Homo sapiens: one gene and its partners. The protein of the gene in region 3 interacts with the protein of the main gene of each other region in a biochemical or structural test. Each region holds a gene or a part of one and is shown on either strand. Other genes may lie near its edges.

Evidence for each region.
Region 1: the proteins of CD2 (region 3) and CD48 form a complex in vitro, tested with the Homo sapiens proteins (one study listed by BioGRID).
Region 2: the proteins of CD2 (region 3) and PSTPIP1 form a complex in vitro, tested with the Homo sapiens proteins (one study listed by BioGRID and IntAct).

The regions. Positions count from the first base shown.
Region 1 is NC_000001.11:160,708,321-160,716,631, forward strand, and holds the start of CD48 (CD48 antigen isoform 1 precursor), read right to left. Parts: upstream 3,503-8,311; 5' UTR 3,444-3,502; coding exon 3,362-3,443; intron 2,169-3,361; exon of another isoform or gene 2,104-2,168; intron 1-2,103. UniProt on the Homo sapiens protein: Glycosylphosphatidylinositol (GPI)-anchored cell surface glycoprotein that interacts via its N-terminal immunoglobulin domain with cell surface receptors including CD244/2B4 or CD2 to regulate immune cell function and activation.
Region 2 is NC_000015.10:77,032,713-77,038,477, forward strand, and holds the end of PSTPIP1 (proline-serine-threonine phosphatase-interacting protein 1), read left to right. Parts: intron 1-149; coding exon 150-240; intron 241-2,795; coding exon 2,796-2,851; intron 2,852-3,089; coding exon 3,090-3,223; intron 3,224-4,332; coding exon 4,333-4,464; 3' UTR 4,465-4,763; downstream 4,764-5,765. UniProt on the Homo sapiens protein: Involved in regulation of the actin cytoskeleton. May regulate WAS actin-bundling activity. Bridges the interaction between ABL1 and PTPN18 leading to ABL1 dephosphorylation.
Region 3 is NC_000001.11:116,749,425-116,757,762, reverse strand, and holds the start of CD2 (T-cell surface antigen CD2 isoform 2 precursor), read right to left. Parts: upstream 3,334-8,338; 5' UTR 3,271-3,333; coding exon 3,210-3,270; intron 3,133-3,209; coding exon 2,812-3,132; intron 1-2,811. UniProt on the Homo sapiens protein: CD2 interacts with lymphocyte function-associated antigen CD58 (LFA-3) and CD48/BCM1 to mediate adhesion between T-cells and other cell types. CD2 is implicated in the triggering of T-cells, the cytoplasmic domain is implicated in the signaling function.

The DNA of each region.
Region 1 (8,311 bases), about 44 Mb from region 3:
CTCATTTCCCACAGTGGCCACTAAAGATTTTAAGCAGAAGAGTGATGCAAACAGAGAACCATTTTAGAAAATGTATACCGACAGCAGGGTAGAGAACAGGTTAGCTAGAGAGAATGCAGTAAATAGAGCAGTTAGGATAGTGGATCATTGTGGAAATTGGTGATAAGAGAAAATGGTGGCTTGATCTGAGATAGGTAGCATGGGGCTGGATGGAATTGGACATATTTGAGAGATATTTTTGAAAGTAGAATTAACAGGACTTACTCATTGGGCATGAGAAGCAAGGGAGAGAAAAGAAGCAAGGATGACTCCTAGAATTCTGGCCTGAGCAACTAGACAAGTGGAGATGTCATTTATAGAGGTGGGGAACAGTGGAGGAGCAGTAGGTTTGGGGGAAGAAGGATTGTAGTATTTTTTTTTAAGTCTGTAAATTTTTTGATGGTCCTCTCATCAAATGATGGACTTTGTGCCCCTTCACCTTGAAATTGAGTAGGCTCGGTGATGGCTTCAATGAATGGAATACACCGGAAGTGTGACCTGCAAAGCTAGCTTAGAAAAGACCATGCAGCATTTGCCTATTTCTCTTGGGACACCAACTCTGGGAGGCTTCTGCTGAGTGGCACTAGCCACCCAGCACTTTGAGCCTCCCTCTGTTCAGGCAGTAGCCCTGTGAGTGAAGAGCCTTGCATGACTCTAGGCCACACCATGATCTGATTGCAAGCACATGAAAAGCACATGAAAGTGAGACAGGATGAACAGTCTTCCCCCAAATCTGTGGGCAAAGTAAATCATTGTTATTATTTTAAGCCACGGTATTGTGGCAGCTTGTTAAATAGCAATACATAGCGGAAACAGAGATGATGACTTAAGTTTTAGACACGTGTCTGGAGAGTCTAGAGAAGATGTTTAAGAGACAGAAGTTCTGATCTTGGGCTCAGGAGACTGCTTGGGGCTTAAGAATTTACTGATGCTCTTCCCAGGTTTTCATCTGTATCGGATTCCGCATGTGTCACAATTGCAAAGCAATTGCACATTTTTTATTTTATTTGATCTTAATAGCAACCCCTTGAAGAAATGAGGAACAGATTATTATACCCATTATGGAGCTGAGGAAGCTGAGGCTCAGGAAGCTTTAATGACTTGTTGAAAATTCCACAGCATGGAACCCAGATAGAACTAGGTCATCTCATTTCTAGTACAATACTCTGTCTACTTCATCCTGCTAAGTGTTGTGGACAGATGGGGAATTGGGTAGTTGTGGAGCATGCCCTAAATCATTGCCTTGAAACCAAAGAACTGAGAAACCCAAGTCTGAGGAGAGAAGGAAGAAGAGAGCTAAGAGTGCTTCTCAAAGTTTTCCACAGAAGCATCCCTTACGGCAGAGGAGAGAACTACTTGCACTTCTCAGGAAGATATGGATGTGTAGTCCAAAAGGAAGTTTTTTGAAGTTGTTCATTCATTTGTGTAACAATTATTTATTGAGCACATGCCACACTCCAGGCCTGTGCTAAGTTCAGCAGCACAACACTGCACATGGTTTCTGTCCTCAAAAAGTTCAAGGAAACAGATGATCCACCAAGCAATTCACAAACCATAATCTGGAGCCTGAGGTTCCCATCTAACCATGCCTTCAGAACACAGTCACAGGCAGACAGTCCAAGAAGAAGTCACATAAAAACAGAAGCCTAAAAGAGAGGCAGGGAGAGGGCAGGAGGGAGAGAAATCTAGGTGGAAAGAAGGCATGTACATAAGCCCAGAGGTAAGAGAAAACGCCTCTTTTAAGGCAAACAGTAAAATTAAGAGATTTAGACACATTGACCTTCACCAAGATTCCCTCGCCTTAGTCTAGGAAAGGTATAATCATAATAGAATGGTTTGGAAGTTAGACCTGTGTGCCCTTAGGAGAATTTCTTAATCTCTCTGCAAGACAGTATTCTCATCTGAAAAATGTAGATAATAATAGCCACCTCACTATTTTCTAATGAAAGTTAAATGAAAAAGTATGCAAAAGGCCTAGCACAATGTCTGACACACAGTAAGTGCTTAATTTGTATTTTACTAACCCAGGTTATAGCCCGGGTGTTATAACCCAGGTTTACTAACCTCATCAAAACCAATATTATCCATTCAAAGGATAACATAATCAGGTGTGGTCTGATTGTTTCAAAGAAGAATAAATGACCAAGATGAAGCCTAGAAAAGAAGTCAGAGAAAGGTCAACTGTCAGGATGTTTTCAGTATGCCTAGAGAAAGTCCTAAAATATTCCAATTCTCATTGGCAACCCTGCTTTTCCCAATAGTTAGATGAATACTTCACATCAGCCCCCAATCCCAAGGTCATACCAATGTCCTATGCATTGAGTCAGGCCCACAGAACCTATATAGCCGTAGACTCACACAGTCATGAACCAAAGGACTCTACCTGAGAGGTAGAATATGTGAGAGACCGATCCTCCACACATTCTACCTCATCTCCCCAAAAGTTACAAACTATCATCATTTTATGCCACAGTGTGACTACCACATGTTTGTTGATTTTTACTGTTTTACTCAGAGTGGTGAGCATTAAAGCCCTTTAAATTAAAAAGACTTGAGTATTTACTTGGGGGAATAGCAAGAAAGTCAAAGGTTTCACTGCTGTTTCTCAGCTGGCATAAGAAGAGAGGTACTGGATGAAGAAAGAGGGTGAGGCAGCTCTAACAGGAGAAGGAAAGTTAGCTCAGCCCTTGGTCACACACCGGGGACCGAACAGGCTGTGGCAGAGGAATGGACCTTAACTCTTAGCAATCAGATGTGTTAAGGTTCCTTTGATGCTGAAGCACTTCCAGCCTCTTCTCAGACCCTCATTCAGAGACCCCAGACAGCAATCCTTTCCAAGCTTTTCTTCCTATAATTTTGATCTATCTTTTCTTTGGGTCAATGACAATATCATTTACCTTGGCTCAGGATGCAACACCTCACATATACAGAGGTCTCAAAGAATGCCTAAGGGAGTACAGTGTGTCTGAGCATAAAATGCAGCAGCTGTCAGTGTAGAGCTTCTTCTTATTCAAAATGAAAAAACAAACACTTTTCCACAACTTCATGGACCACCAACCACGGGACAAAATATGAGGAGCCTACTTCTCTTGCTCCCCAGGTTCCTGTTTTGATCACATCCCCGTGGGAAAGGAGATGAAGCTCCATTCATCAGTGCTAAGAAAGGCTCCCCAACCATGCCATGGCCATGCTATTGGAATGGAAATACCTGCTTTCCAGACACCAGATCTGGCTTCTAGGGTTGAACTACATCCCGTCTCCCCTTTCCCAACTGACCATGCCTTCAGTGCACAATCACAGATACACAGTTGGTGGAAAGTACCTTGAATGCTGGTCACCAGGAGTGACAGAGGCAGCAGTAGCAATTCCAGAGCCAGACACGAATCCCAACCTCTGGAGCACATGCTTCCTTCCAGAACTTCCCAGCAACGCAGGAGACAGTTGAGAGCCTGGCTAGAAAAAGGCCGGGGCTAAAAACGGAACTTACCAAACAGGGTTAGAGAGAAAAAAAAAAAAACCACTGAGATTTTCTCTCCACCCAGCACACTTGTGTGGGGCCCCAGAAACCAGAAACCGGAGGTCTTGTAAATTTTTTTATCTAAGAGCATCACGGAAACTGAGAACAATTTTGTTTGAAGGTACATGAGTGCTTTTTTGTAGGGGGAAGATTCATAGCTTCTACTGTACTCTCAGGGGGGCCAGTACTCAGAAAAGAATAAGGGACCCTGATAGAGAATGTCTGCTTTTCGTTCCCAGGCAGGAATCCCTCTGATTAATTCAGGGGCTAAGACATAGGAGCTTCCCAGTCAAGCCTGGGTAGGTGTCATTCAGAGCCTGAAGTCTGGGAAATCAGACCCACGTAGCCTTTGTGCTGCATATCTTACCCCCAGCACCACCCTCTGCTCTTCTTCCTTTATGATAATTCACTATTTGAAGTTTGACATCAGCCTATCCACTGAACATCAGAAAAAAAGTAAGATTACTTGGCCCAAAAGAATGGATTTCCCACCCTTGTAGTCTGTATTAGTCTGTTCTCACACTGCTAATAAAGACATACCCCAGACTGGGTAATTTATAAAGGAAAGAGAGGGGTTTTGTTTTGTTTTGTTTGTTTTGGTTTTTTTTTTTTTTGAGATGCAGTCTCACTCTGTAGCCCAGACTGGAGTGCAGCAGTGCAATCTCAGCTCACTGCAACCTCCACCTGACAGGTTCAAGCAACTCTCCTGCCTCAGCCTCCTACATAGCTGGGATTACAGGCAAGCACCACCATGCCCAGCTAATTTTTGTATTTTTAGTAGGGTTTCACCATGTTGGCCCGGCTGGTCTTGAACTCCTGACCTCAAGTGATCCACCTGCCTCAGCCTCCCAAAGTGCTGGGATTATAGGCATGGGCCTGTGCCTGGCCAGGAAAGTGGTTAAATTGACTTCTAGTTCAGCATGGCTTGGGAAGCCTCAGGAAACCTACAATCATGGTGCAAGGGGAAGCCAATACGTCCTTCTTCACACGGTGGCAGGAAAGAGAAGCACTGAGCAGCAATGGGGAAAGCCCCTTCCTTATGAAACCATCAGATCTAGTGAGAACTCACTATCACGAGAACAGCATGATGGTAACTGCTCGTATGATTAACTTACTTCCTACTGGGTTGCTCCCATGATATGTGGGGATTATGGGAACTACAATTCAAGATGAGATTTGGAAGGGAACACAGCCAAATCATATCATGTCTAGGAAATTTCAAGCTCATTCCTATTGAATGTAAATTAGTTATTTGCCCACCCAGGACCCACAGGCAAGCCACAGTTCCTGATATAACATATTTGTAATCACTTTTTAATTGGGGACATTTCTGATTCTCAACATGGAGATGAACAATAAAATGTCTGCTCTTCTCAGTCCTCAAACCTGAAGGACATTATGTTAAGTGAAATAAGTCATGCACAGAAAGATAAAAAACCACGTTCCCAATCATATATGGAAGCTTAAAAAATGAGCTCATAGAAGTAGAGAGTAAAATTGTGGTTATCAGAGGCTGGGAAGGGTAGAGGGAAGTGGAGGATGGGAAGAAGTTGGTTAATAGATACAAAGTTACAGCTAGAGAAGAGGAATAAGTTCCAGCATCCTGTAGCACTATGGAGTGAATACAGTTAAGAATAATTTAATGTATATGTTCAAAAAGCTAGAAGAGAGGATTTGGAATGTTCCCAACACAAAGAAATGATCAATGTTTGAGGTGATAGGTATCCTAATTGCTTTGATTTGATCATCACACATTGAATACATGTATCAAAATATTACTCTGTATCCCATAAATATGTATAATTATTATATGTCAACTAAAAATAAAAGGGAAAAAAACATAAAAGTGAAAAGAAAGAACCCTGCAAATAAAATTTGAAACAGCACCAGAATCAAATTCCTCTTGGTCAAATTGTTACACTTTGGAACTGTGTGTTATATTTTTCCTATAAATTGATTTAACCTTAGGATACGACCCTGCTCCTTCAGCAAGAAAAGATAACATTGTATTAGATTTTTAAAAGAGACCCTGTAAATTAATGTTACATTCTCTTTTTTGGGGGGAGGGGGGCACAGGCTCCCACTCTGTCACCCAGTCTGGAGTACAGTGACCACTATGCATGGCTATTTTTTTAAAATTTTTTGTAGAGATGAGGTCTCACCATGTTGCCCAGGCCAGTCTTGAACTCCTGAGCCATAGGATCCACACTCAGTCAGTGGCAGGACGGGGAGTGCTGTGACCTGCTTCCACCTTGGGCACCAGTGTCTAAATGAAGGGAACACAGTGGCACTAAGAAACTCGGAGATGCCAGCAACTGCGGAGCCCTAAGGGGTGTTACAGCTTTGCTTGGGGAATCCCAAGGCCTGAGACCCCAAGAAATGTTACAGCTCTCTCTCTCGTTCCTGCCACCTGCAGCTCAGCAAATGAGGGCACCTCACAGCTCTTGTTCAGTCCCACTGCCTGCAGCTCAGCAAATGGGGGCATGTCACAGCTCTTATTTAGTCTTGCTGCCTGCAGTTCAGTGAATGGGGGTGTGTCACAGCTCTCACTTGGTCCCAGTGCCCACAGCTCAGCAAATACGGGTATGTTACAGCTTGTTCCTGCCACCTGCAGCTCAGCAAATGAGGGCACCTCACAGCTCTTGTTCAGTCCCACTGCCTGCAGCTCAGCAAATGGGGGCATGTCACAGCTCTTATTTAGTCTTGCTGCCTGCAGTTCAGTGAATGGGGGTGTGTCACAGCTCTCACTTGGTCCCAGTGCCCACAGCTCAGCAAATACGGGTATGTTACAGCTTGTTCCTGCCACCTGCAGCTCAGCAGGTCCTGGGTTCTTGTCCTGCAACCAAGAGGAATAAAGCATGCAGACAAAGGAGAGTGAGTAGGTCAGAGAATAATTTTATTGAGTGACAGAAGGAAAGCTCTCAGCAAAGAGGGGACCAGACAGTGGGTAGACCACTGTGTGAGAGGGGCCCCAAAACAGGTAGCCCTCTGTGAGGCTGAGTCTGGGGTTTTCATCGGCTCAGATTTGTCCATAGGCAGGCCTGGAAAAAGCACCATTCGATTAGCTAAAAGGTATCAAGGAAGTTCTCACTCTGGTTGTGGACTCTACCCAGAACTGGCAGCCCAGTTTTCAGGCTTTAAACTGTCTTTGTCTTGAAAGTCTAGTTTCACCAGGGACCCTTTTCTATCTGTCCAGGAATTTGTCTGTCTCCTGTCGCTATCACTTTGGGAGGCCGAGGAGGGCAGATTGCCTGAGCTCAGGAGTTTGAGAGCAGCCTGGGCAACATGGCAAAACCCCATCTCTACTAAAAGTAAAAATAAAAATAAATGTTAAAATACCTCCTTTGAATGTTGTTGTGAAAAGTTGAAGAAAGGAAAGAACTTTTATCTGAAGAATGTGAGTCCTTCAAATTATCAGAGAGACATTTAAATGAGACAGAAATCACATTTTACTTCCCCCTACTCCACCTTTGGGCTATGTATTCACCTCTTAAAACTACTTGCTATTGCTGCAAGTAACCATAAATTAATCTAATAATGCTGCACTGGACATATAACCCACACCTTACAGCTTAACAATATGTAACCAATCACTAATTAATGTTATTTCTGCAAACCAATGAGAATTCCAAAAAAAAAACTTTGTATCACTTTTTTTGCCTTTAAAAACCTGCTTGTAACAAAGGCTGAGCAGAGCTCAAAACCAATTTTACTTGGGTCTGAGTCTTCCAGGCAGCTGTCCTCCCTTTGGCTCAAGTAAAGTCTTCAAATCATATTTTGTGTTTCAGCCTCTTTCTTTTAGATTGACAAGTAAACAGCTCTATAATTCTCAACAGTCTGCTTAGATGTGAATTAATAGCCATGGGATATAGGCTGATGTTAAAACAAAGGATGAAATATAAACTTAAGCCAAGGAATCTTCCTCCTTTTGCATGGTAACAGCGGGCACTGAAGTACTATGGGTGCCCATTCTGAGGTTCAGGACTAGCTAGTTAGGCTTCTGCATAGATTCAAAAACAAGTCTGAGAGAAGTGACCAATAAAGGCTCAAAAGCCCTCTCCCTGCCCTAAGTGAATCAGCTGTTCTTGCACCAAAGCCCTGGTTGCAGAAATCCCTGAAGTTTGGGCATACCCAGAGGTGGGGCTGCAAAGACCCTAGAAGATGAAGTACAGGTCAACAATCCTCATGATGTGAATTAAAATACACACTCTTCTCAGTATCTAATCTGGTGGGCACTTGACCTACTGCTTGACTTTGACAAAGTGATAGTAATGACAGAAGCTATTATTTTCTGTGTATCTACTAAGTCAAGTACTTGCCAGGACCTTTGCCTATATTATCTCATTTAATCCTCCAACATTTTACAGAAGGATCAGGTTTCAAAAACAAAAACAACAACAAAACAACAAAATAATAATCCTCCAACATTCACATGAGGATATTTATAAACACTATTCTTATTTTACGGAAGAGATAACTGAGGTTCAGACAAGTCAAATGGCTTGCCCAAGGGCATTTTGCTAATTAGAACCAGAATCAAAATTCAAATCTACGTCTGTCTGATGCTCCAGCTGGCATGCCTAACTACTATGCACACAGACTCTGGGGTTATCAAGGTTCTGGGCATCAGGGGATCTGCAATATGCCTACAAGAAATGGAGAACACATAGGAAACACTATGAGAGTCATGCCAATGTGAAATTAGGAACTCAGAGAATATAGGGCCTTGAGTAGCCCAAAAATGTTCAAGGAGGG
Region 2 (5,765 bases), on a different chromosome or scaffold from region 3:
TGGGGTCTCTCATGGGAGCAAGACAGGCACCTCCTCAGGCACCAGGATGGGCCAGGGCCAGATTGGGAATGTAGGGCCCCAGCTGAGTCTGGCAGGGCCAGAATGGGGTGTTGGGGGCCGCCCTGGGGCTCACGGCTTGCTGTCTGCAGCTCCGGTGCCCTACCAGAACTATTACGATCGGGAGGTCACCCCGCTGACCAGCAGCCCTGGCATACAGCCGTCCTGCGGCATGATAAAGAGGTGAGGCCCCGACAGACGGAGGGAGGGCCTAAGGCTGGGCCAGGAAGTGGGTCGAGCCCCTCCTCTGCACCTGGCCCTTCCTCGTTCACTGAGCACCTACTATGTGTCTGTATCTGGTGCCCAGTTTAGGTGCTGGGCACTCTGTGGAGACAAGATAGGCTCAGTTCAGCCTATGGAACCCTCAGCCCAAGGGACCCAGACACTAGAATAATCACACCCCAATTATTCACTAGGGGAGGTGCTCCGAGCTCTGGGGAGGCCCCTATGCTGGCTTCCTTGTCCCTGGGGCCTCATGTGAGCCTGGTGCCCTGTCAGGCTGCAGTGGCAACGCTGTCTGGCTGGAGCAGGACTGGGGCATCTGGAGAATTCTCCAGGCTTTTCCAGGGCTCCTTCCCCGGCCTGGCTGCAGTCAAGTGCCAAGGTCCTAGTGCTGGGCCTCAATGTGTGACCTGGGCAAGTCATTCACACTCTCTAAGGCCAGGGCCCTGAGTGTTGGGGTCAGATTCAGAATCTAAGGACTCTCCTGGTTCAGGCCTTGAGTGACGAAGGTGACAGCCCATTGGGAGCACTATAGCCAGCTTAGGGAGCCCTCGTAGCCAGGCCTTTGAGGGAGGCCATGTGCCCTGTGAGCATCCACAAGGGTCTGTGGGTTTCACATGGTGCCTGTGCCCCCACCGCCATGCCACCACTCTTCAGCCACCCTTCAACCAAGAAGGCCCTGCCTCTGGGAGGTAGTGGACTGTGGGGAGAGGCTGATGCAGTTCCCGGCCCTTCCCAAGGACCAGCTCATTCCAGGGCCTCAGGAGCCCCTGGAACTTCCTACTCCTGGGAGGCAGAGGCTCGTGGGAACCACCCGTGCTTAGAGAGGGCACACACACACCCTCTTTGAGAATCTTGTGCAAGCAGTGACCCCAGGAGGCAGCACACCCGCAGCCTCACATGCTACAAAAGCTTGTGAGACAGGCTTCCCTGTGCCTGGTGAGGACCTGGATCCCAGCAAAGGTGGTCATTTAAGCAACTGGACAAAAGAGCTCACCTGAAGCAGTATCAGGAAGGGGCAGAAAGGAGTGGCCCCAGAGAGGATTAGAGAGAGAGAGAGAGATGTCCTGCAGGGCCGAGGGAGGCCTGGCTGCTGGAGGGGGCTGGTCAGGCCTCTGGATGGGGCATCTAGAAGCCAGGCAGGACTGGGAAGAGGCGGGGGTCAGTGACTGGGAGTCAGAAGTGTAGACAGTCTGGGGAAAAGAGGTGTGGGGGCACGCAGCACAATGGCTCAGCAAGCCCTGCACCCCTTTCCCCCTGCCCTGGCCGCTTCCTCCACCTGTCCCCAGCCCCTGCTGGCTTGCACCCTGTCCTTTGCTGCCTGGGGAGCTGGCACGTGTGTCTGCCCGCCTGTGTTGGTGTCAGGCCCTCCCATGTGCTGGGTCCACGCATGTCCACCCTGCGCATGTGTGTGCACTCCTGGGGCCTTGGCCCTCGGCGCCTCATGTGGGAAAGGCCCCCCACATGCCACCTTGAATTGCAGGGCTGCCCCCCACAGGCCCCTGAGTCATGGCTCAGCCCCTCACCTGCATTCAAGATCCCTCAGGGTCTGGTCCAGTCTCTATTTCAGTCCTGTCCCCCACACACCCAAATTGGTCCACTCCACTCCACAAACCCCACCTGTGCCATGCCTCCTCCCCTGCACCTGAGCCCTCCCTCTCCTGGTCACCTGCAGTGCCTCGCTCCCCCTTCTCTCCTAGTAAAGCTTCACTCATCTTTGAAGACTCAGCCCCACCCCACTAAGAAGCCCTCTTGCCTTGGAGGCAGTGTCAGCCTCTACTTGTTGAGCCCTCACTACTGCCCACTTCAGGGGGTGCCCCCAGCATCTGCCGCATCTGCCTCTTCTGTTTTATTTTCCTTTATTCAGTAAACCTTCATGACCCCAGCTCAGTCCAGGCCTAAGCCTGGTGCAGGGGCAGGGGTAAAGTAGCCCAGCGCTGTCCCGGAACTCCTGTGAACAGGGTGGCTGAGCTGGCCTGATCACCGTGGGCCCACAGGGAGGAGGGCTGGCTCGGCCCAGGCAGTGGAGGCCTCAGCAGGGCACGTGAGCCAGGCTTTGTGTGGCAGTGCACCCCCCACCCCTACCCATGGGGGAAGCTGCTAGGGCAAGCTAGAGCAGGGGCCTGGAGGGTGAGGACTGGGCATCTTCCCACGAGGCCTCAGTGCGGAGGTCCTAGAACCCCCAAAGGGCCATGGGAGTCTTCCAATGAAGCTACAGCTTCGGGGGTTCTAGGATCCTCCCAAGGGCCCTGCAGGGAGCAGGTGCTGAGATGGCCTGCAGAGGGCGCCAGTGGAGGGCGTAGCTGGGGAAGGAGGAGCCACCAGGACTACTTTCTGGGGAGCCCTCCTGCCTGAGGGGCACCTCATAAATGACATCCATGCCTGGAGGCTAGGGGCAGTCCCAGCCCTGGCAGAGCGCGTGCAGCTCTGAGACCTCTCCCTGTCTAAACCCTCCCTCCTGGTGGGTCCCTGAGTGTGGGGCGGGGACACTCACCCTCTTTCCTCCCTGTTCCCAGGTTCTCTGGACTGCTGCACGGAAGTCCCAAGACCACTTCGTTGGCAGCTTCTGCTGGTAAAGGGGGTCAGGAGGGGACCCCCAAACACACTGATCCTGGGGGGGAGGAGAGGTCTCCCACATGGCACAGATGGGGCCACTGAGGCCCTCAAGAGGAAGTGTGTGTCCCCCAACAGCAAGTGTGGACAGCAGAAGGAAGAGGCAGGGCCCAGCATGGAGAAACCCCATTCTAGTAGGACTTCCAGGGGCCAGTGTCCCCAGAAGGGGAGGGGTCTATGTCTCACCCTGCTCTTAGCGTCCACAGAGACCCTGACCCCCACCCCCGAGCGGAATGAGGGTGTCTACACAGCCATCGCAGTGCAGGAGATACAGGGAAACCCGGCCTCACCAGCCCAGGAGTACCGGGCGCTCTACGATTATACAGCGCAGGTGAGGCCTCTATACCCCAAACCCACCTGTGCCACCTCCCCTGCACCTGAGAGCTCCCTCTCCCATCCAGTGCCTTGCGTCCTCATCTCTCCTCATGGTTTCACTCATCTTCGAGCATCCTCTCCTCCTCAGGAGGGCACGTGTGCCCGAGTGTGTCCACACTAGCAAGGGTACCTGGGAGTGTGCTTGGATGTGAGCTCTGAGAACAGCACCCAGGGCTTGCGGGGCCTCAGTGTGCATGTACTGACTGGAAGCTGGTGTGCAGCAGGCCTGTGTCTGCCCGGGCCTGTACACAGCACACACGTGGAGCACATGTACCTATGCCGTCCACACAGGCTGGGCGCTGAGTGGTGCACACGTGCGGGGAGCTGGCAGAGCCTGGAGCTGCCTGCAGGTCATAGCTTGAGGGCCAGGCTCTGTGCCTTTGGGTCAGGGCCCTGTCCTTCGTGGCCATGGGTGTGGAAAACTGTGGCCAGAATGAGTCTTGCTATCGTGCCAGGATTGATTTTCTGATGTCCATAGGGTGAGGATGAACCAAGGCAGCCACAGGGCAGCTATGAGAGTCCTTTCTGCTCCCTGCTTGAGGGGAAGAATGCATAGCCAGACCTCACATCCACCTGGACTGAGGCCAAGCACCCCCACATAGCCAGGCAGGCTGGGTGTGGACTCCACTGATGAGGCCAGGGCTCGGGGAGGCAGGGAAGCCAGGCCAGGAGAGTGATGGGGTACTTGGATGGCAGTGGCTAGCTGGGGCTGGGGACCGCAAAGGGGAGGCTTGTGGTAAGCTTAGGCATGAGTGTGCCCTGGGCTTGGGGTATGATGAGCACCCGTGACCCCTGACATGCTCCAGTCACTGCGTCTCCAGAATGGGAGAGGGGAGGTGAGGCTGGGAAGAAACCCAGGTTGGGGGAGAACTATGATGACAAACTGAGGGGGATGGGAGGCCCGGTCCGTTGGGTTACCCCCATCCTGTGTCCCCAAGGGGCTGCCCCTGCCCACCCTGGGAGACATGCCGCATTTACTGCTGGGTGGGGGAACGCCAGGCCCCTCCCTGCAGGCCCTTCCCTGCAGGCCCTTCCAACGTCATGCGCTTTCAATCTCTTGGCCAGAACCCAGATGAGCTGGACCTGTCCGCGGGAGACATCCTGGAGGTGATCCTGGAAGGGGAGGATGGCTGGTGGACTGTGGAGAGGAACGGGCAGCGTGGCTTCGTCCCTGGTTCCTACCTGGAGAAGCTTTGAGGAAGGGCCAGGAGCCCCTTCGGACCTGCCCTGCCAGTGGAGCCAGCAGTGCCCCCAGCACTGTCCCCACCTTGCTAGGGCCCAGAACCAAGCGTCCCCCAGCCCCGAGAGGGAGCCTGTCGTCTCCCAGGGAATAAAGGAGTGCGTTCTGTTCTCCTTGGTGTGCTGGGGTCCCGTTCTCTTTTTCTCCTGCTCCAGTGTCCGAGTGCTCAGTTCAGAGGAGGCAAAGGAACAAGGGAAGGAGCCTGGATGTGGAGCTCCCCAACTCAGCCGAGGCTTCAGCTATAGTTGGAGAAGAGGCCTGGCCCCAGTTGCTAGGAGCTCCCAGACTGCCAAGGAGACACATTCACACCTGGACAGAGGACACAGGGGTGCAGGAGGATGTGGCAGGGGCAAGAAGGGGCTCAGCAGGGCTGCAATGGGGAGAGCAGGCTTCTTGGGGGCGGAGGGTTGAGCAGGTCCATGGCTGGGCAGCAGTGGCCAGGCCAGGGCAAGTGCGTGGGCAAAGGTGAGGTTGGGGGTACACCCAGGAATATTCGGAGGACTCAGTTTGGAAACAGGAAGCTGGTGATGGATCTGTTGGAGAGGCCATGGTGGGAGCCCAGGAAGACAGGCTTGTGGCTTGTGGGTGCAAGTGGGGCCTGGGGAAGCCACTGCTGCCCATGACACTCCCCTCAACATGGCAACCCCGGCCGAGCAGGGGTCCACAGCCCAGGCACGTTGGCCCCGGGCACAGAGGGAGCTGTTCTTGAAGGCCTTCAGCCCCTTCTCTTTTTAGTCCCAGGAACATAACTTTCACTGCTGGCCAAGCCCTGCTCCAACCATGATAGGCTTCATCCATGCCAAAGGCATTGGGAGTGGGTGTGGAGGAGAGGGCCCCTGGCCATTGACCACTCCTCAGTCCTGGGAGTGGCCAAGCCGGCCCACCTCACACCCTCCTGGGATCCCCACCCGGCTTCGGAGCCAGGCAGGCCCAGGACTGTAAGGGGCGGGATGGGGGACACAGTGGTCCTCCTCTGCTGGGACCACACTGATGAGCTGCTGCAGGGCACTGCTGTTCCCCATGGGGAGGGGGGAGAGAGAAAGGAGGGAGGGGGGAGAGAGAGAAAGGAGGGAGGGGGGGAGAGAGAGAGAGAGAAAGGAGGGGGAGAAAGGAGGGAGGGGGAGAGAGAGAGAAAGGAGGGAGGGGGAGAGAGAGAGAAAGGAGGGAGGGGGAGAGAGACAGAATGCCCATCTTTATACCCTGATCTTTACTTGAGCAAAAAATTGGGTTCAGTTAAGCAAGCATGAGACATGGACAT
Region 3 (8,338 bases):
CTCTCTCTCTATATATATATATGTAATATTTTAAAAATTAAAACTAATTTATGTGATCTTACAGTCTGCCTTTTCCCCTTTATTGTGAAATTATATTATGAAGTTCTTTTCTTAATGAACATCAATAAATGCATATATGCATCTTTTTAAAGGATGCATTCTTAATTTAACTGATTAATAAGTTTCTAACTGCTGACTGTTCTAGTATTTCGCTAACATGAATAATGCAGTGATGGGCACCCTTGTGGAGTAGTACCTCCGTATACATTCACTAAGATAGCGTCTTAGAACTGATCCAACCTAAGGCCTTCCATGGATGAGAACTCCTTAATTCTGAGTTGCTGGGATTAACCCCTTCCCTACTAGCATCTGCTTCTAAGGGGCCCTCCATTGCCTCTTCAGCCTGCAGCAGCAACTCCCTCATGAAGGAAATGCAGGCACAACTACTGGAGTTTGAGAAGTTTGGAGGCCGGGTGCGTGGTTCACACCTGTAATCCCAGCACTTTGGGAGGCCGATGCAGGCGGATCCCCTGAGGTCAGGAGTTTGAGACCAGCCTGACCAACATGGCGAAACCCCGTCTCTACTAAAAATACAAAAATTAGCCGGACGTGGTGGTACATGCCTGTAATCCCAGCTACTTGGGAGGCTGAGGCAGGAGAATCGCTTGAACCTGGGAGGCAGAGGCTGCAGTGAGCTGAGATCATGCCAGTGCACTCCAGCCTGGGCAACAGAGCAAGATGCCATCTCAATTAAAAAAAAAAAAAAAAAAAGAGAAGCTTGGAGAAACAAAGAGATGTGGGAGGGCATTAGCACTGAGAAAACAGGCATTGTGCCCCAGGCACTGCAGGACACTTGTACACACCTTGTCTCACTGAATATCCCTTGAAGTTGTCATTGGAAAAGCAGACTCACAGCAGATAGGGAATTTGCCCAAGGCCATGGTCACCTTAAGTCTGGTAATAGTGACCAACTACAAGTTGAATCAAGATGTTGTATGACATTGACGTGCACACACATAAAGCAAGTCACTGTCTTTCGGCTAAAGGGTGAAGGGTTTCTTTTTGGGGCAATGAAAATGTTGATTGTGGTGATGGTTACAAAACTCTGAATATACTGAAGGCCATTTTAGTATATGGACAAATTGAATGGTAGATGAATTATCTCAATGAAGCTGCTTGGAAAAAAAAAGAAAAGGTCGTCATTCTTGCCAAAAAGACCTCTGAGTTTGAATCCTGACTTTGCTCCTGTCAAGCAATGAGACCTTGGACAAGCTGCTTCTGACTAGGTCTCTGTTTTCTTATATATAACAAGGAGATAATAACAACTAGGTCTCAGTATTGTTGGGCGCTTTAAATAAGATCATGTAAGCAAGCACTTGACCCCTAACTGGTAGCCATTATTTCCGCCGCAATGCTAAATGCGACCCAAATGTGAAAACACCAGCATGGTCCCCCGCGTAGGGCTCACACTCAAAACAGGACACTCGAGTTTTGTGCTGTTTGGAGTCCTGAGATCTGTGGTTTCCAGAGCCCATAATCAGAGGCCCTTTTCAGCGCCATGCTCAACCCCACTACATTTCTACAAGGTGCTCTCCACTCAAGGTTGCAGGACTAGGGTGTGGAAAGTTGTCACTTCAGGGGAGCTGACAGTGTCTGGGATTGCTGGAGTGGGCAATCTGACACTATCTGGGATTGCTGGTAGGCCCAGGTGCTGAAGATGGGGCTGGAGACAGAGAGGAAGAAGGTGGGGTCCCTGCTTCTGGTGATATTTTCTGTGTGAAGCACAGAAATGCTTATTTGCTCACTGAATGGCTGGCCTGTGCTCATGCTGGGGTTCCTGTCTGCCTCCCCAAGTCAAGCGCAGCTTCTTCTTTTCCCTTCTTGTCACTACTTCCCCAGCATCCCCCCGGGCTTTCAACTTCAATGGCATTTCGATTCCACTTTCTCTACCTTCTCTCCCTTGCCTAAGCCACCTTTCTCTATGCCTGACCCTTATTATCCTCATTCTTCCTATTTTAGAGGCACCCTTTGGTCTAGGCCAGTGGCGATTGACTTTGGCAGCTCATTAGAATCCCCCAGGGAGCTTTAGAACCTAATGATACCCAGGCCGCATGCAAAAAAAATCTGATTTAATTGGTCCTCACTCCACTTGGATTACAGCAGCAGCTTTCTAACTAGTCTCCCTAACCCCATCCTCAATATCCACTCCTGTCCTCCCAGTACAGGCAGAGATATACAAAGCCACACCTTGTGCATCTTCTACACATATCAGCAAAAATCACCTGCCACCTTGTATCACTCTGACAAGCAGATCCAAAATAAGGGCTGTTCATCCTTAAATATGTTGTTTCCAGCCCTTTTCTGCCATATAACTCCTCCTTCAGGGCAGCCTGGCTTGAAATGGGCTCTGTCGATGAAAGGCCCGCTGCTCTCCAGTCAGCCTCTTCTTCTCGCCCCACTCTTAGCTCGCCGATTCATCAGCAACCTGGAACAGTTGCCTTTTCCCTCGGCCTACCTGTGTCCCCCTCCCGATTAATGCCACCTTAATCCAGGTTCTTCACCCAACCCCACATTCCTGTAACCACCTGAAGACAGAGTTGTAGGCAGGTAGACTTGAGGGTCTATCAGATGTGTGGATCCCATTCCCGCATTGGACCACAGTCTCCACTGGGGCAGGAGACATGCATCTGGTTTCCTGTATAGCCCCCCTGGAGGCAGAGGTCAGCGCTGGGGAATATTAGAAATGCTATTTTCCAACTTGCCAAATAGCACCCACACTGAAATAAAGCAATTAAGGGAATGAACACTTACCTTGAATCTTCAAATCAAATATTTTTTCCAACACATTTTTTCCTTTTGTATCATATATTGATACCTTGTAGATATCCTGATCATCGGTCTTCAGATGCTTAATTTTCAGAGTTCCATTTTTAAATAGCTTATATGTATCTTTTTCCTTGAAAGTCTCTTTCTCTTTTCTGAATTGTGCAATCTTTTTCTTGTCTGAAGTTTTTTCCCATTTTATATCGTCAATATCATCACTCATTTGAAAACTAGGAATGTCCAAGTTGATGTCCTGACCCAAGGCACCCCAGGTTTCCAAGGCATTCGTAATCTCTTTGGAGACTGCACCTATAAAAAGCAAAAGAGTTACTGAGAGTCACTTTCAGGGAAAGCTGGGTTGGGACTTCTTTGACTCTTATGCTTACCTTTGGAAGAAACATTGAAAATCAGAAGGAAGCTGGCTACAAATTTACATGGAAAGCTCATCTTAGGGGTTGGTTTCCTCTTTTGATTCTGAGCTCTTCATGCAAAAGGAACTGAAGTGAGACTGGTGGAGTCCACACCCCGAGAGCTTAACCACGTGCCTCTCTTTACATCTTTTACAGTAACATAAAACATAATACACATACACAGAGAGCAAGAGCGCGCACAAGCCAGCCCTTCTGATGTGCTCCTTTGCCAAAGCAGATGTGTTTATGAGTGTGTGTTTTCTTGCTGCATTTTAATTCTCACACAAAAAAATTGGGAAGGATAGGTTTTCTCATCTCAGTGAAAGAGAAAAGGAACAGAGAGGCTAAGTAGATCACTAAGGATCACTCTTTTGTAAACAAGAAGCCAAATTCAACCACACAGCCTTTTATCCACTTAGGTATACTGTCCCTAACAAGACCACATAGAAATATAGGTAAATGTTCACAAGCCAATAGCAGAATGCAAACATTTATCCCATATGATTATATTGAAAAATGTAGACCCATAAAATGATGAGGAAATTGATTTTTTTGTTTCTCCAAAGATATTTTTCATGTTCTAAAATCGTTTTTGTGGTGAAAAGAAAGAAATTGAATATCAGCTGTAAATGCTTGCAATCCCCAAATCCTATGTTCGGCATACATTTTACAACTCTAGTGAAATTCACAGTTAGATAAATAAAAACTTATTCCAAAACAAAGAAGCATAGAGACTATGAAATATAATTAAACTACCAAAACAAAGGAGTCAAAAGCATTTAAAGTGATTAACATTATAGGTGGTTAAGAAAAAGGAGAGATTAGGAGAAAAAATAAATGAGAGGGAACAGGGAGAGAAAAAAAGAACAGAAATTTGTGACACAAGGAAACAGACAGTGATGCAGAGACGGGTGTGCCCTGAAAAGATGCCTAAAAAGAGAAATAACCATGACAGACTTCCAAAGCACATTTTCAGGGTTATAATTCTTTAGGTCACAGTGAGTAAAAATTGCAAAAGTGGTGCTCGTTTTCTTTTTCAACTTTAAGTACAAATATGGATATTATCTGTCAGAAAGTTGCCAAGGAAATGAAATTAAGTCAAAGCAGTTGTTTGCTGTTACTGGGTAAAAGAAAGCCAAATATTTACCTCATGGTTGTATGAGCGTCATCCACAATAATGAACTACAGTTGGATTAAAGTTTTAAATGCAAAAATACTATAATAATGCTAAAAGGAGGCCGGGGGTGGTGGATCACAGCTATAATCCCAGCACTCTGGGAGGTCGAGGCGGACCTCCTCACCTGAGGTCAGGAGTTCAAGACCAGCCTGGCCAACATGGTGAAACCCATCTCTACTAAAAATACAAAAATTAGCCAGGTGTGGTGATGTGCGCCTGTAATCCCAGCTACTCAGGAGGCTGAGGCAGGCAAATTGCTTGAATCTGGGAAGCGGAGGTTGCAGTGAGCCAGGATTGTGCCACTGCACTCCAGCCTGGGGAGCAGAGTGAGACTCTGTCTCAAAATAAATAACTAAATAAATAAAATAATAACAATAATGCTAAAAGGACAATATAGAAAGATATTCCTATAGTTTGAGTATGGAAGGCCTGGCTACATATAACATATAATCCAAAGTAAGAAAGAAAAGATGAACACAACTGATGATATAAAGAAGTAAGATTTACATGCAGATGAAGAAATAAGGAACAAAATGAAAAGGCGTGACAAAATATTTGCAATATATATAAAATTATTAATATTCAAAATATTCTTACCAATAATTCTTACCAATCAATACAAAGTAGTTTTTAAAATGGGCAAATGATATAAATGATCAGCTTGCAGAAGAAATATTTCGCAGAAGAAATATCAAACCTACAAGAGGAGTCTAATGTGACCAAAAATATATGTATATATCTTAGCTATAAAATACCATTTTTCACCATCAGATTGGTAAAATTAGAAAAGATGATAATTTACATTATTAACATGAGTGTGTGGAGAAATGAACCCTCATACAACATCAGAGGGAATGTAAATCAATACCTTCTGGGGAAAGGAATTTATCATTTCCACCAAACTTTAAAATTTATGTCTTTTTCTCACCTAGTGATTTTAATTTGAGAAATCTATCCCACAGAAATGATTGCACAGATGTTTTAAAATTCTGTTCAAGGACGTTTGTTGTAGCATTTTTGTAATAAAAAATTGCAAACAACTAAAATTATGGTATATCCATATTATGAAATATTGTATAACCATCAAAATAGTATAACATAGGCCTAAAAGTAAGACATGGAAAGATGCTTTTGGTAAATCACATGAAAAGAGCACATTGCAAAACAATATCTATAGGATTAGTCCTTTTTATATATGATACTATGTTTATACTATGCTATGGGTATACCAGTATACCATAGCATACTATGTTGTTATTAAGGTATGTGTTGGAAAAAAGCCTGAAAGGGTTGATGCTGAATTTTTTTACAGTGCTTGTCTTTCAGGTATTAGATTGTGAGAGAACTGAAATGAAATTTTCACTTCTTACCTTTGTAAACCAAAAAGAATTTGAGACAGATCTCAATCAATTTAGAAGTTTATTTCATCAACATTAGGGACAAAAAGGAACACAGAACCACAGGAAAAATCTGTGGTTTGTGCCTTTTTCTCAAGATTATTTCAAAACCTTCAGTTAAGGGGAAAAGCTGGCCAGAGGGGAAGGAGGGAGGGTACAGTCACATTACTGAATCCATATGTTGCAAGAGAAAAAAAGTAGGTAGGGGAATGGTCAATTTGTATTCTTCTCATGCTCAGTAAATTGGCACTTTCTTAAGATAAGGTGAACATAGAGTAGCTACCCGTGGAGACAGCAGCTTTTTATCTGTAACTCTCTGCTTAGGAACTCAAGGAAAGGCAGTTTCTTGTGTGACTCAACTTTCAGCTTAATTTTTCCTTTTGGCATAATGAATTGGGGTCCCAGGATTTTATGTTTCTTTCACATTTTATTTATTTCTGTGAAGTTTAAAATTTTGGAAATAAGCACCTTTTTTGTTAATAAAAAATGTCTTTTTAAGAAAGGATGCTTAGGGCACACGTATTTTTTCAAAAGTATCGCCAACCCAGAGGAGCAGCATGGAGCTTCCTGTTTGTGAGTGGCTGACCCACCAGCTGCCATCCAACTCCAGTGTGTCAAGGCCTGGTGGAGAGAAGGTGGCGCCAGCCATCCTCTGACCCATCTCAGCTTTGGAGGGCGCTTGTCCTCTCTTCCTCACACTTTCCTCATGGAGCATGTGAAGAGCAGCTTTCTGTTCCTCTATTTGAAACATTAATTTTGCTCCTCTAAAACTAATTCAATTCTGAGTGATGAGCATGGCTTCAAGGGCAGAAACAATGAAAAAGAAAGAGGTCAGTAGATTTGACTCTGTAAAATGTGAAAACTTTCTATGTAAAAAGCCATAAAAAAATTAAAGACAACGTACTAAAAGGAGCAAATTACTTGCAAGATACATGACAAAGGCATAACAATTTTTTTTTAATTTTAGAGACAGGGTCTTGCTCTGTTGCTCAAGATGGAGTGCAGTGGTATGACCACAGCACCACAGCATACTGCAGCCTTGACCTCCTGAGCTCAAGTGATCCTCCTGCTTCAGCCTCCTGAGTAGCTGGGACTACAGACATGTGGCACCATGCCTGGCTAATTTTTTTATTTTTTGTAGAGACGGGGGGTCTCACTATGTTGCCCAGGCTCATCTTGAACTCCTGGGCTCAAGTGATCCTCCCACCTTGGCCTCCCAAAGTGTTGGGATGACAGGTGTGGGCCACCGTGCCTGGCCAACATTAAATTTTTAGTATTAAATTTTTCTTGTAAACATAGAAAAGATAGACACCTTAAAACTAAAATGGGTCAAAGTCATAAAAGGAGCAATCCACAAAAGAAAAATTTTATTTCTATTTATTAATAAAGAAATGTCAGTTTTAACATAGATGCATTTTTCATCTTCATTTGAAAAATGAAAACATAGTGTTGATGATGGTGTAAATGGGCATTCTTGTATATGGCCAGGAGAATTGCAAGTAGGTATAGTTTCTGGTGGGCAATTTGTCAGTGTGAATTAGAGTATCAAACATTTGTGGATTTCTAACAAATCCACAAGGATGATTTTATCATAAGGAAATAATGAAGGCTATGTACTAGACTTGGCTATAAATTTATATGCTGCAGTATTTTAAAGACAAAATTGGAAACAATTTAAATGTCTAAGAGAAGGAAATTGGTTAAGTAAATCATGATATAGACAAGCTGTGGAATATGACAAAAACAGGTCCCAATTGTAGGAGAGGTGAAAAGTAATCTTTTTCCTCTTCTTGTCTTAGGTTCTCTGGCTGGAGCCCTGTAAACCAGACTGGGAAAAGACAGGTTAAGAAGGGAAAGGCACATTGAAGTTGATTAAGATGTGTATCCCTCATAAACATGGGAGCACCCAGTGGTGAGTAACCCAAAGGGATGTTAGAACTTGGACTTATAGAGTATATTAGACTAAACAAAGAAAAAGCGATTTGGGGCTTCTAGGTTGGGGAGGCAAGTTACCCAATGACCAGGAAAAGTGTGCCAAACAACAAGATGTGTTTAGTAAGGTTTGTTATGCAGATTGAAGCCAATGCCTTCTCCATTGATAAGAGTTGTTAAGAGTCCTCCTCTTCCTGATACAGGAGAGGGAGATACCTTTTACAAACGGCTATTTTCTTCAGAAATTGTAAATTTTCTTTACAAAAGAAAAATATTGTGCCATGTTTTTAAAGCTTTTACTGCCTCTGCTGGTTCATGATGGCCTTTTGCTCAAAAAAAAACCATATGTTAAAAAGGCATGTTTTAGGGTGGCACTGAAGTAGGAGGTGGAACTTGACTCTGGAGGTGGGGCTTGGACACTGGACCAAATTGAGGACTAGCTAAAACAGAGATAGGTGGAAGCAGCTTTCCATAAAACATGCTCACCAGTGTGCCATGTCAGTTTACTGTTGCCATGGCAATAACCAACTTCTACCACCTTTTTCCATGGCAATGACCTGGCGACCCAGAAGTTACCACCCTTTTCCTAGAAATTTCTG